2 separate regions of the Homo sapiens genome follow, and region 1 is linked to region 2. A link means that fine-mapping ties the variant in region 2 to the expression of a gene that starts in the linked region. Tissue or cell type: whole blood. Region 2 holds a variant in brackets; the other region holds the start of a gene. All regions are shown on one strand. Distances are from middle to middle.

What was found. PIP is the estimated chance that this variant, and not a neighbour inherited with it, causes the effect.
Region 1: PIGV starts here. The variant in region 2 is fine-mapped to the expression of PIGV in whole blood (INTERVAL, PIP 0.92).

Annotation. Positions count from the first base shown.
Region 1 is chr1:26,785,247-26,790,616 of GRCh38, forward strand. PIGV (phosphatidylinositol glycan anchor biosynthesis class V) reads left to right here and starts at 2,704. Exons shown (of 4, transcript NM_017837.4): 1 at 2,704-3,022. RefSeq lists enhancers at 1,474-1,623, 2,144-2,583, 2,630-3,456, 3,144-3,343, 4,151-4,280 and a silencer at 2,634-2,843.
Region 2 is chr1:26,718,504-26,723,873 of GRCh38, forward strand. The region is part of intron 1 of ARID1A (AT-rich interaction domain 1A); the gene reads left to right. Among named protein-coding and RNA genes, the nearest start is that of ARID1A, 25 kb to the left of the region's middle. RefSeq lists enhancers at 3,406-3,986, 3,987-4,566, 4,597-5,370, 4,626-5,370. The variant G/A (reference allele first, on the strand shown) is at 2,530.

The DNA of each region.
Region 1 (5,370 bases), 67 kb after region 2:
AGAGAGGGAAAGAGGTAAATCTGTGAAAGATTAAAATAGTGTAGAGTGGGAGAACCAGCCTGGGAGGCTGGAGACCTGAATTCAAGTCCCATCGCTACCACTAGCTATGTGACTTCTTGCCAGTCACTTACCCTTTGTGATCCTTAGCTCCCTCATCCATAAAATATAGGTATAGGATTAAAGAAATTGATTTATTGACCAGATCTTTATTGAAGACACACAGTGTGCAAGGCACTGTTCTAACTGGAAATACATTGGTGAACAAAGCCCTTGCTCCTCCATTACACTCAGAAGCTTACATTCTAGAATAGGGAAACAGACATTGAAACAAGTAAAATTCATGGACAGGACAAGCAGATAGTGTTAAGTGCTATGAAGAAAACAGAGGCCGGGCGCAGTGGCTCACACCTGTAATCCCAGCATTTTGGGAGGCCAAGGTGGGTGGATCCTTTGAGCCTAGGAGTTCCAGACTAGCCTTGGCAATATAGTGAGACCTCATCTTTAAAAAAAAAAAAAAAAAAAAAAAAAAACAGAACAGACTGATGGGATAGTACAGGGAAAGCCTCTCTAAGGAGGTGACTTCTCTCCGGAGACCCAAACATAATGGGCTAGCCAAAGGGTGGTCTGGAAGTAGAGTGCTTCAAGCAGGGAAAATAGCAAGAGCAGAGCCAGGCAAGTTCAAAGAACAGAAATGATGTAACCCTCTTAAATCCTAAGCTTCTAGAATAGTAATGCATTGCTTGCATTGTTCTGGTTAGGGATTTGTATGTGATATTGTTTCTTGGTGATGTGGGATATGTGCTTCTTAATGGAAATGGCTGGGAAGTGTGGAGTCTTTCTGGAGCCTGGGATATGGCTCTTTCTCACTTGCTTTCCACAGTTCTGGTAGCTCAGCTGGCTCCCTGGGTAGATGCAGGCTCCATCTTAGCTGCAGACTCTACAAGAACACTGAGAGGCTGCCTCCGTCACTACTCAAAGCCTTGGAGTCCCAGAATCCCCTCCTATCCCACCTAGCCTTCTTCCAATCTGAAACCAGGGAGTCAGGGCTTTGAGAGCACAAGATTCAGCTTCCTTGTTTTCCTGTCAGAGCAGAAGTCAGAAAATGAAACAGGAAACAGAGCGGAAGAGGAGGGGGTTGGGTAGCAGAGAAGGAAAAGAGAAATTGCAGGAAAGTACAGCTGAAAATCTGGATAAAGTTCTACCTCTACAGGGTGACAGCTGAGCTTTTAAAAAACATTCTGACTTGTCTTGAGAGACCCCTGGCCTTTTTACAAATAGATTTTTGAGAGAATTTGATGTGGACAGAGGGAACCCTGAGAATGCATGTCTTTTTTCCCCTTGTGAATTTACAGAGCAAGGACAGTTCATTTCTCAGTTTTGTCTTTGCAGAGAGAGTGCTGCTTGGAGCCTCATGGTGGACTTCTAGAGATTCAAGTCACAGCCTTAGGCCCCAGTCACAAGTGTGTCCCCAGGCTTTGCCACGTTACTCACAGGCCTCTGGAGCTGAGAACAAGTGCGTGGCACTGAAAAACCTGGGGGAAGGGCCATGAAACTCCATTTTTTCCCCCTTCTCCAACACACAACGACTAAATATGATTTGCCTTTTCTCCACCTTGCACACAACAGATATCTGAAGGCAATTTAGGTCTCAGGGCCTGAAATGAGTTACAGAGTCAAGAGATACAGTCCCAGGCCCCCACAGACTGATGTGGGCTGGTCTTCGCCTGGAGAGGTAGCAACCATCTCTTTGTTCCCACCCACATGAGTAGCCGTTGCAGAAGATAAACCCCTCCCTGAGCCAGGCTGTGGCCAGAGGCTAACCCGGCCCCTGGCTTCGTTTGGAGGGCAGATAACTGAAACCACATAAGGCTTTGGAATCCTGAGAAACAAGAAATCCACCAACGGAGAAGGATTTATCATCTGTTTCCTTTAAGGAGGGTGCAAAGTTGTTCTAACAGTTTCCGTTACAAGGGTACAAACTGGCCGCTCCCCCCAATAGACGGTTTTGTTGAGTTCGCCTCTTTTTTTTTCTTCTTTTTTTGGCCCCACTTCCTATGAGAGAAACTGCTTGGGTGAGGGAGGTGAAAGGAGCCCTGGAGGGTGTTCTCTGAGGTTTTCTTCACCATCCTCATTAGCCACCTGAGGTGGGGCTGAGGACTAAAGTAGGACAGAAGGTCTCTGGTAGATAGAGGAGGGGAAAATCAGGGGGATCCCCCACTTTCTTCACACCCAGGACGCAGGGTGCCGCTGCCGGCCACAGAAACCCCAAGAATGTTTTTCTTTGGCTATTCAGAGGACATCTATTGTGTGTCAGGCCCTGTGCTGAGCTGTTGTTGCCTGACAGCAGGAAGAGCGCGGCTCTGGTTTCTGTGAAGAGGCTGCGGGTCAGCCTCCGACTACAAGAGCCTCGGCCCACACCGGGAACTCAGTGAACGTCAGCGGGAGCTGGGGCAAGAGCACTGACTCTGAGACAGCAGCCTCCGCTCACTATTTGAAGGCGGGGTGGCGGGGGGCCTTGAAGGAGAGCGAAGTGCGAGAGAACTCTTCAGGTGTCACCAAGGTGGGAAGGTGCTACGAGGCGAGGCGCCGAGCGGCGACCCCCATCCCGCTCGCCCGGAGTCAACATGGCCGCCGCGCAGGGAGGCGGGGCTGCTCCAAGTCCGGGCAGGAGCGGGGCGGGGACGCCGTCGGCGGAGCCAGCGCGCAGGCGCGGGCCGCGTGGGCCCCGGATGGAGGAGCTGAGGTTCGGTCCCCGCCGGGGAGGTCGGGACGGGCAGGGGCTGAGGACCCCGCGCCAGCTTGGGAGCCCTGGAGTTCTGGCGGGAGGGAAGCTGTCAAATGGAAGCCGGTAGAAATGAGACAGACGCCCGGAGAAGCGGGGAGCCCCGCCCCTCCGCCATAGCAGCCTCGGGCGCCGCCTCTTCCTTTCCAGCCTCCCGCCCTCGTCTGCTTCCGGCCCTGTGGCCTGGTGGGGCTCTGCAGGCTCCCTCGGGAGTGGTCCTTGGGCCGTGGCCCCTCTGGGGTGAGCGTGGATGATTAGTACCCAGAAGGGACTGTGTCCAAAAGGAGCCGGCCAGAAACGGGTTGCGGACACGGCTGGGCTGACAGAAGGCAGCCCCCACGAGGCCTTTGGCTCTGAGGACCCTGGGTCAGAGCGACTTCTCCAGCCTGCGCAGGGGGTGTTAGTCTTACCCAGAGGGTCCAGAGCTGCCGTTCAACAGGATGTCCCAGATTCTCAGATAGGGCCCAACTACCCTAAGCATACCTAGCAAGGGCAGGCTGCGGCATGGAAGTACTGGGCTAGGCGTTTGGGTGACCTGGGTCATAATCCTGGCTCGGAAAGGGCGCGTACCCTTTGGCGAGGGATGCGGGCTGGTACCGTGAGGTTTAAGAAGCAGAAAACATGACAGCCTCTTTAAGTAGCCCTGGGTACGTCACTTGACCCCAGTGAGCCTCAGTTTCCATATCCATAAAATGGCGATGGTAATTATACTAGCCTCACAGTGTCTGATGAGATCTCTGGAGCCTATTTATCTCACGGGAAAATTTTTGAAGAGTGAAACTAGTTGATCTGTAAGTGTCCTGCCAGTTAAGAGTCTGTGATTTGGCAAAGGGGTTGTTGGGAAGTGAGGTGGGCAATTAGCTGAGAGGGAGAATTGACTAGCTTTGTTTTTACTTGGTTTACCTGTAAGCAAAGTGTGGGCTACACACATCTGTAGTCGCTGAGGCTAGAGCTTGACTCGAGAGAGGAAAGGAAGAATGCAAGCATGGTCAAGTGGCAGAGGTGGGTTAGGTGCTTTTCTGATCCCAGCTTCTCTTCTGCATGCGCGTGGGAAGCCAAGGAAGAGGAAAAAAGAGTGAATTCGCCCTAGGATAGGGAAGGAGTAGCCGCGTGAGGTTGAGTATGCCCATTTCCGTGATTTCTCTCGATTCAGCGAGTCATACGTTGGAAACGTTTAGATTCACAAACTATCGTTACTGTCTGGGGCTTTCAGAAGCTTGCCTTTGAACCGAATTTTCGTGAGCCAACCGGTGTGGAATTGGGGGCCCCTCCCTTCCTCCAGGCCTCCTGGCGATGGAGTAAGCAGCAGGCGCCCCCTTGTGCCAAGGAAAGAGTACTGTTGCCATTGGCCAACTTGGCTCCCTTTCTGGGGAAATTTTATTTTCCTGTGGCTTCTGTGACTTTGTCGTCTTGCTCTTGACATGAGATATGATGGGAAGAATACTTGGGGCACTGATTTCATATCTAGAGTCAGTGAACTGCTGATGCTGTATCCTGTCCCTACCACTTCCATTCATTCAGAACACAGGTTTAAGATGCCTATTTGTGTTCTAGGCCCTGGGATATAGTTGTGATGTAAAGCCCCTGCCCTTAGCAACTTAAATAAGCAATAGCAATAACGGCAATAGGGCAGAATGTAATGAGGGCATAGCACACTGTCTAGTGAGGATCAGAGAATTCCAGAAACAAGTGATACAGGTTTTTTAGGTATTCGCCAGATAAGAGAAGAAAAAGAGTCTTCCAGCCGTCCTCCTTAAATTTCTCAGTTCAAATTTTTTTTTTCCTTTTAGGCATAGTTCTTCATCCCAAATTGATGAGCTGCCTCTGATGCTTTTGCTTTCCTTTCAAATTTCCCAGGCTGGTGTTTGAAAGTTCTTGAGGAGCCTTTATGACTCCTTTTAGCTCAAGGAATTATAAAAGATGCCTTAAGGTGCATTCCCTGCCTCGGAGTGGCTTTGCGATTGTTTATACGTTGCTACCATCCCAACAAAGAGATGGCAAATAACAGTTTTCTCCATCCCTGGTAGTCTACTCTGTCTTCACCCTCAGTTTGTTTCAGCAGTGTGAGCTGGCTGAGGTCCTGCTGAGTGGTGGTTTTCTTTTCCTTCCCCACTTAATTTAACAGACCAGCTGAACACACATCAGAGAGCTAAGCTAGAGTGTGGAGTCATTATGGTCTTCTAGTATGGTTTTATGCCCCACTTTGGGGACTCTGGTTTGGGACCTAGTTTATTATTCTGGGCAAGAGGAAAAGGGCACACGCCAAATAATAGCAACCACAACACAGATTTGAGTAGAACTTCACACTTTGGTCTGTTTCACCATCATGACAATTTTGTGAGATAGGAAAAAAAAAAAGTCTGCTCCCATTTTTTATATAAAGAACTGAGGCTCAGAGGGACTAATGAGAACTTGTAAGTGACAGAGTCAGGAGTTGAACCCAGATCTTTAGTTCCTGCAGAAGTGCATCCAATAGGCTTTAAAAGATTTCTGTGACCTTAGCTTTCCAGCTACTTGCTTAGCTGTATGGAACTTTACCAACGACAGTTCAGGGCTTCACAGTGACACCTACTGAACCCATTTGCTGT
Region 2 (5,370 bases):
CGGTATCCGTAGGGGGTTGGTTCCAGGACTCCCTGAGGATACTGAAATTTGTGGAATATATAAAATTGCATGGTATTTGCATATAAACCATTAATACGTACATTCTCCTGTATACGTTAAATCATCTCTAGATTACTTATAATACCTCATACAACGTAGATATTATGTAAGTAGTTGTTATGCTATATTGTTTAGGGAATAATGACAAGAAAAAAAGTGTACACATTCAGTACAGGCACAACCATCGTAGGCCTACTAACTACATTTTTGATCTGAGGCTGGCTGAATCTGTGGATGCAGAACCCATGGATACAAAGGTTTGACTGTACTTTGTTTTTCCTATACATGCATACCTATGATAAAGTTTAATTTATTAGGCATAGTAAGAGATTAACAATAACTAATGATAAAATACAACAGTTATGTGATTGTGGTCTCTCTCTTTCAAAATATCTTATTGTATGTAATGTTTTCAGATTGTGGTTGACCGTGGGTAACTGAAACCTTGGAAAGCAAAATCAAGGATAATGGGGGGTACTCCTGTAGATCCAAAGCATTTCAGTTCAGCATTAATAGGGACAGGAATTGCCAGGCCACTAGAGTTTCACTTTCTCTTCTACATTCCCCTTTCCTTTCCTGCTTTTGGGCATAGGGGAGCATTTGTTTGTTTTGTATACATATCTCTTATCTCTGCCTACCTGAAATTTATATTCTAGTCAAGGATACAGATAGCAAACAAGATAAATAAGTAAAGCATTAGTATGTTACGATACTTGCCCAGGTGAACCAGAAAAATCTGAGACTGAGTATAGGAATTTGGGGAAGCTTGATTTTGGCTGAAAGTGCTGCTCATTTGGGAATCTGAGGTGCATTTCTAGCTTTTCTTTACTGGCCAGGCACTGCCCTCTTCAGACCATTGTTTGGCTAAGGAAAACGAATGTACATCTGAATTCTAGAGACACTCTGTGCTGGAGATGGATTTGCACTATAACAGGCATTTCACATACTTATCGTTTGAACTGTCTCATATTTTTGTTAAACAGTTTTTAATCCCTGTTTAAAGATGATTCTGGTGCCAAGGGATGAAGTGACTTGCTTAAAGTGGTGTGAAACTCTATACTTTTTTTTTTTTTCTTTTTAAAAAGGTACAACTGAGGCCGGGCACAGTGGCTCACGCCTGTAATCCCAGCACTTTGGGAGGCTGAGGCGGGCAGATCACCTGAGGTCAGGAGTTGGAGACCAGCCTGACCAATGTGATGAAAACCCGTCTCTACTAAAAATACAAAAATTAGCCGGGCATGGTGACATGCGCCTGTAATCCCAGCTACTCGGGAGGCTGAGACAGGAGAATTGCTTGAACCCGGGAGGCAGAAGTTGCAATGAGCCGAGATCGCGCCATTACACTCTAGCCTGGGCAACAAAAGTGAAAGTCCGTCTCAAAAAAAAAAAAAAAAAAAGGTACAACTGGGCTGGGCGTGGTGGCTCACACCTGTAATCCCAGCACTTTGGGAGGCTGAGGCAGGTGGATCACGAGGTCAGGTGTTTGAGACCAGCCTGACCAACATGGTGAAACCCCGTTGCTACTAAAAATACAAAAATTAGCCGGGCATGGTGGCATGCACCTGTAATCTCAGCTACTCAGGAGGTTGAGGTAGGAGAATTGCTTGAACCCGAGAGGCATAAGTTGGAGTCAGCCGAGGTCACGCACTGCACTCCAGCCTGGTGACAGAGCGAGGCTCTGTCTCGAAAAAAAAAAAAAAGGTACAACCTTCCAGATTGGCCAACATGATGAAATCCTGTCTTTACCAAAAATAAAAAAATTAGCAGGCCCTGGTGGCACAGGTCTGTAATCCCAACTGCTAGGGTGACTGTGGCAGGAGAATCACATGAAACCGGGAGGTGGAGGTTGCAGTGAGCTGAGATGGCGTCATTGCACTCCAGCATGGGCGACAGAGCAAACAAGACTCCATCTCAAAAAAAAAAAAAAGGTACAACCTTAATTTATTTGATTGTCAGTTAACCTTTGGGCATGTAGCCCAAATGCTCCCAGACTGGATACGAGACTCTCTTAAGATTAAAAATACAGATTCCTGGCTGGGCGCAGTGGCTCATGCCTATAATCCCAGCACTTTGGGAGGCTGAAGCTGGCAGATCACTTGAGCTTAGGAGTTGAAGAACAGCCTGGGAACATGGTGAAACCCCATCTCTACAAAAACTGGCTATGATGGCATGTGCTTATAGTCCCAGCTACTCAGGAGGCTGAGGTGGGAGGATCACCTGAGCCCAGGATAGGAGGTTGAGGCTGCAGTGGGCCATGATTGCACCACTGCACTCCAGCCGGGGTGACAGATTGAGACACCCTGTCTCAAAAGAAAAAAAAAAAAAGATTCCTGGCCCGGCCCCCATCCCAGACCTGCTAATTAAGAATCTGGAGGGTAGAATTGGATTGAGTAGCTGAGGAGGTTGAGGTTCAACCTGGTTGATTGTCTTGACCACTCCCTCAGGAAGTTGGTCTGAGAACTGGGATTG[G/A]ACCCCAGATGTACTTACTGCCTCTCAGTTTACTGCTCTTTGCACCTGGTTGTACTGCTGCCTTTTGAGATAAAAAGTTGTAAAGAAGGGGACGTTTAATTTTATGAGATGACATTTTGGTTCTTGTTTCATAGTTTTCTTGGGGTCTTACTATTGTTTTGGTCACCCTGGTTTGTTTTTGTTTTTGTTTTTGTTTTGAGACCGAGTCTCACTCTGTCACCCAGGCTGGAGTGCAGTGGTGCGATCTCGGCTCACTGTGACCTCCACCTCCCAGGTTCAAGTGATTCTCCTGCCTCAGCCTCCCAAGTAGCTGGGACTACAGGCGCGTGCCATCACACCCGGCTAATATTTGTATTTTCAGTAGAGACCAGGTTTCACCATATTGGCCAGGCTGGTCTCGAACTCATGATCCGCCCTCCTCGGCCTCCCAAAGTGCTGGGATTACAGGCGTGAGCCACCGCGCCTGGCAACCCTTGGTTTTAAGCAGTACCTGAAAGGATTTTTTCCAGAGAAGTTACTTGGTTTCCTTAGTGGCTTTTGTAATTTGTTTGAAATAGGGAGAAATTGGTTAAGTTTAGTCTTAGGAAAAAGTGATCTTCATCATTTTAGGAAGAGCATTTTCTCTGGAAATGATGATAGCCACCTGTTATGGAAAATGTGGCTAATGAAAGTGCCCTGGATGAAGAGAGAAGGACTTATCATTTGTTGGGATTCATTAGTTTGATGCTGTAGCTGCTTTATTTGAAGGGCCCTTTCTGGTGCCAAAGAAGTGAAGAAGCATCAGTCACTTGGTTGTGGTTTTTCTGGCATGCCTCTTTTTGGTAGACAGCTGTGAGGTGGTTATTATGGTTGTTTCTCATAATCTGATTGAGTTTTGCTACATGATTCAATGACTCTTCCCCTTTTGGTCTCCTTCTTCTAACCTTAGTGAGTTTTCTCTTATCTTCTGGTCTGGAAGGATAGAGATATGGTAGTCTATATATCTCTAAGCCCAGAAGAGAATGAGGCCTTTGTCTTGTTTTACATCACTTTCTAGATGTTCTTGGTTTGACATCTGGTTGCAAGCGCCTTCCTGGAGGTTTGATCAGGCTAGTGCTTCAGGGGATATCATTGGAATGGGCTAAGTCTGCAAAGGGGAATGTGTCTGATCTTCTAGAATGGTTTCTGTAAGCAGAATGGGGTAGATAGAACTTTTCACTGATTTTTGTGGTGGTTTTTTTTGTTTGTTTTCAAGATAGAGCCTTGCTCTGTCACCCAGGCTGGAGTGCAGTGGTGTGATCTCTGCTCACTACAACCTCTGCCTCCCAGGTTCAAGCGATTCTCCTGCCTCAGCCTCCCGAGTAGCTGGGATTACAGGCACGTGCCACCATGCCAGGCTAATTTTGGTATTTTTAGTAGAGACGGGGTTTCACCATGTTGGCCAGCCTGGTCTCAAGCTCCTGACCTCAGGCGATCTGCCGCCTTGGCCACCCAACGTGTTGGGATTACATGCGTGAGTCACTGCGTCTGGCCAATTTTTATTCCACTTGGAAATTTATGGAAGTTTGAAAGAATTTTTAAAAAACAAAACTTTTTTGGGGAGTGGTAGTTGCAAACTAGTTGTTGATTCCTCTCTCACCAAAGGCAGATGGTCAGTTTGTTTAGAACTTGAATGAACTAGAATGAAGGAATTGTGAAGTAGAAAACTGAGTTATGGTTCCTAGGTTATGAATGAAGAGAATCATAGGCTGAGTGGGTTTGATTCCCTGTGACAGGTGTTGGTATAATCTAATGAGATTTTTTTATTTTCCTGTCATCAGCTTGGCTTCAGGAAATCTTTAGTGTTGTCTCTGTTGAGGCCAAATAGGAGGTTAGAAATCTCTTATTGTCCTAGGTCATATAAAAAGTCATGTTTCCCCACTATTTAAAACAAGATGAAGGTAGTCTCCTTATTTTAGGAGGCGGGGTCTAGGAGTAAAACTAAGACAAACATGTTTCTGGACAATTTCTCCTCAATTGGGGGCTAGGGGTTCTTGACTAGTCTTCAAAGAAGGTCTGAAATACTAGGGGATATAGAAAAGACAGGATAAGGGGCGTTAGATACAGTTGTCTGGCTGGGGAGAGAAGGGACAATGAGAATGATTTATGCTGGTCATTTTATGTACCAGGGTACATAGGGTGATTTTTTTGGTGGAAGCCTAGTCTGTCCTAAGATATTACTCCTGAGATCTAAGTGAGCCACGTGCAGCTGGCAGGAAGCTGAAAGCTGTTGGTTGGGAGAGGCCTTAATTTTTACACTTGCCCCTGCCTGGAATGCCCTATCACAGGGGAGGGTCCCATACTGGAACTGGATCAACAGCTGTCGCCTGTCCCTGGAATCACAGGAAGCGGAGGACGGGGTGCCTTTGTATAGGGAGCTCTGAAGCCAGACAATAGTTTGTGCTGGCGGGGCCATGTGGCGAGTCATGTGACCTGGGGCTGTTTTCTGCTGGGGTCCTTACCCATCTGTTCTCTCGGCTCTTTCTGGGTTATCAGGCGCCAGTCCAAGTCCTCCCAGGCAGCCAGCTTCATGGCCAGAGATTACGAGCACTAACCTTCCTGGCAGGGGCGGTGTGGCTTCGAGTTTATGCAGATTAGCCATGTGTTTCTCACTTCAAGGCGTTCCACAGGAAAAGCCTTTTCCTGTGTTTGGCTCTCAGTGGGCGGTTCCCAGCTTACTGTACTGGGACTCAGCAAGCAGCAGGCATGCACCAGAGGGATCACAGTACACTGGCCCCCCTCTCCATTCCACCTCCAATGCTACGTCACCACAACACAACCACTCGCGCTCTCATACTGTTGGTGTCATTCATTCGGTGCCAA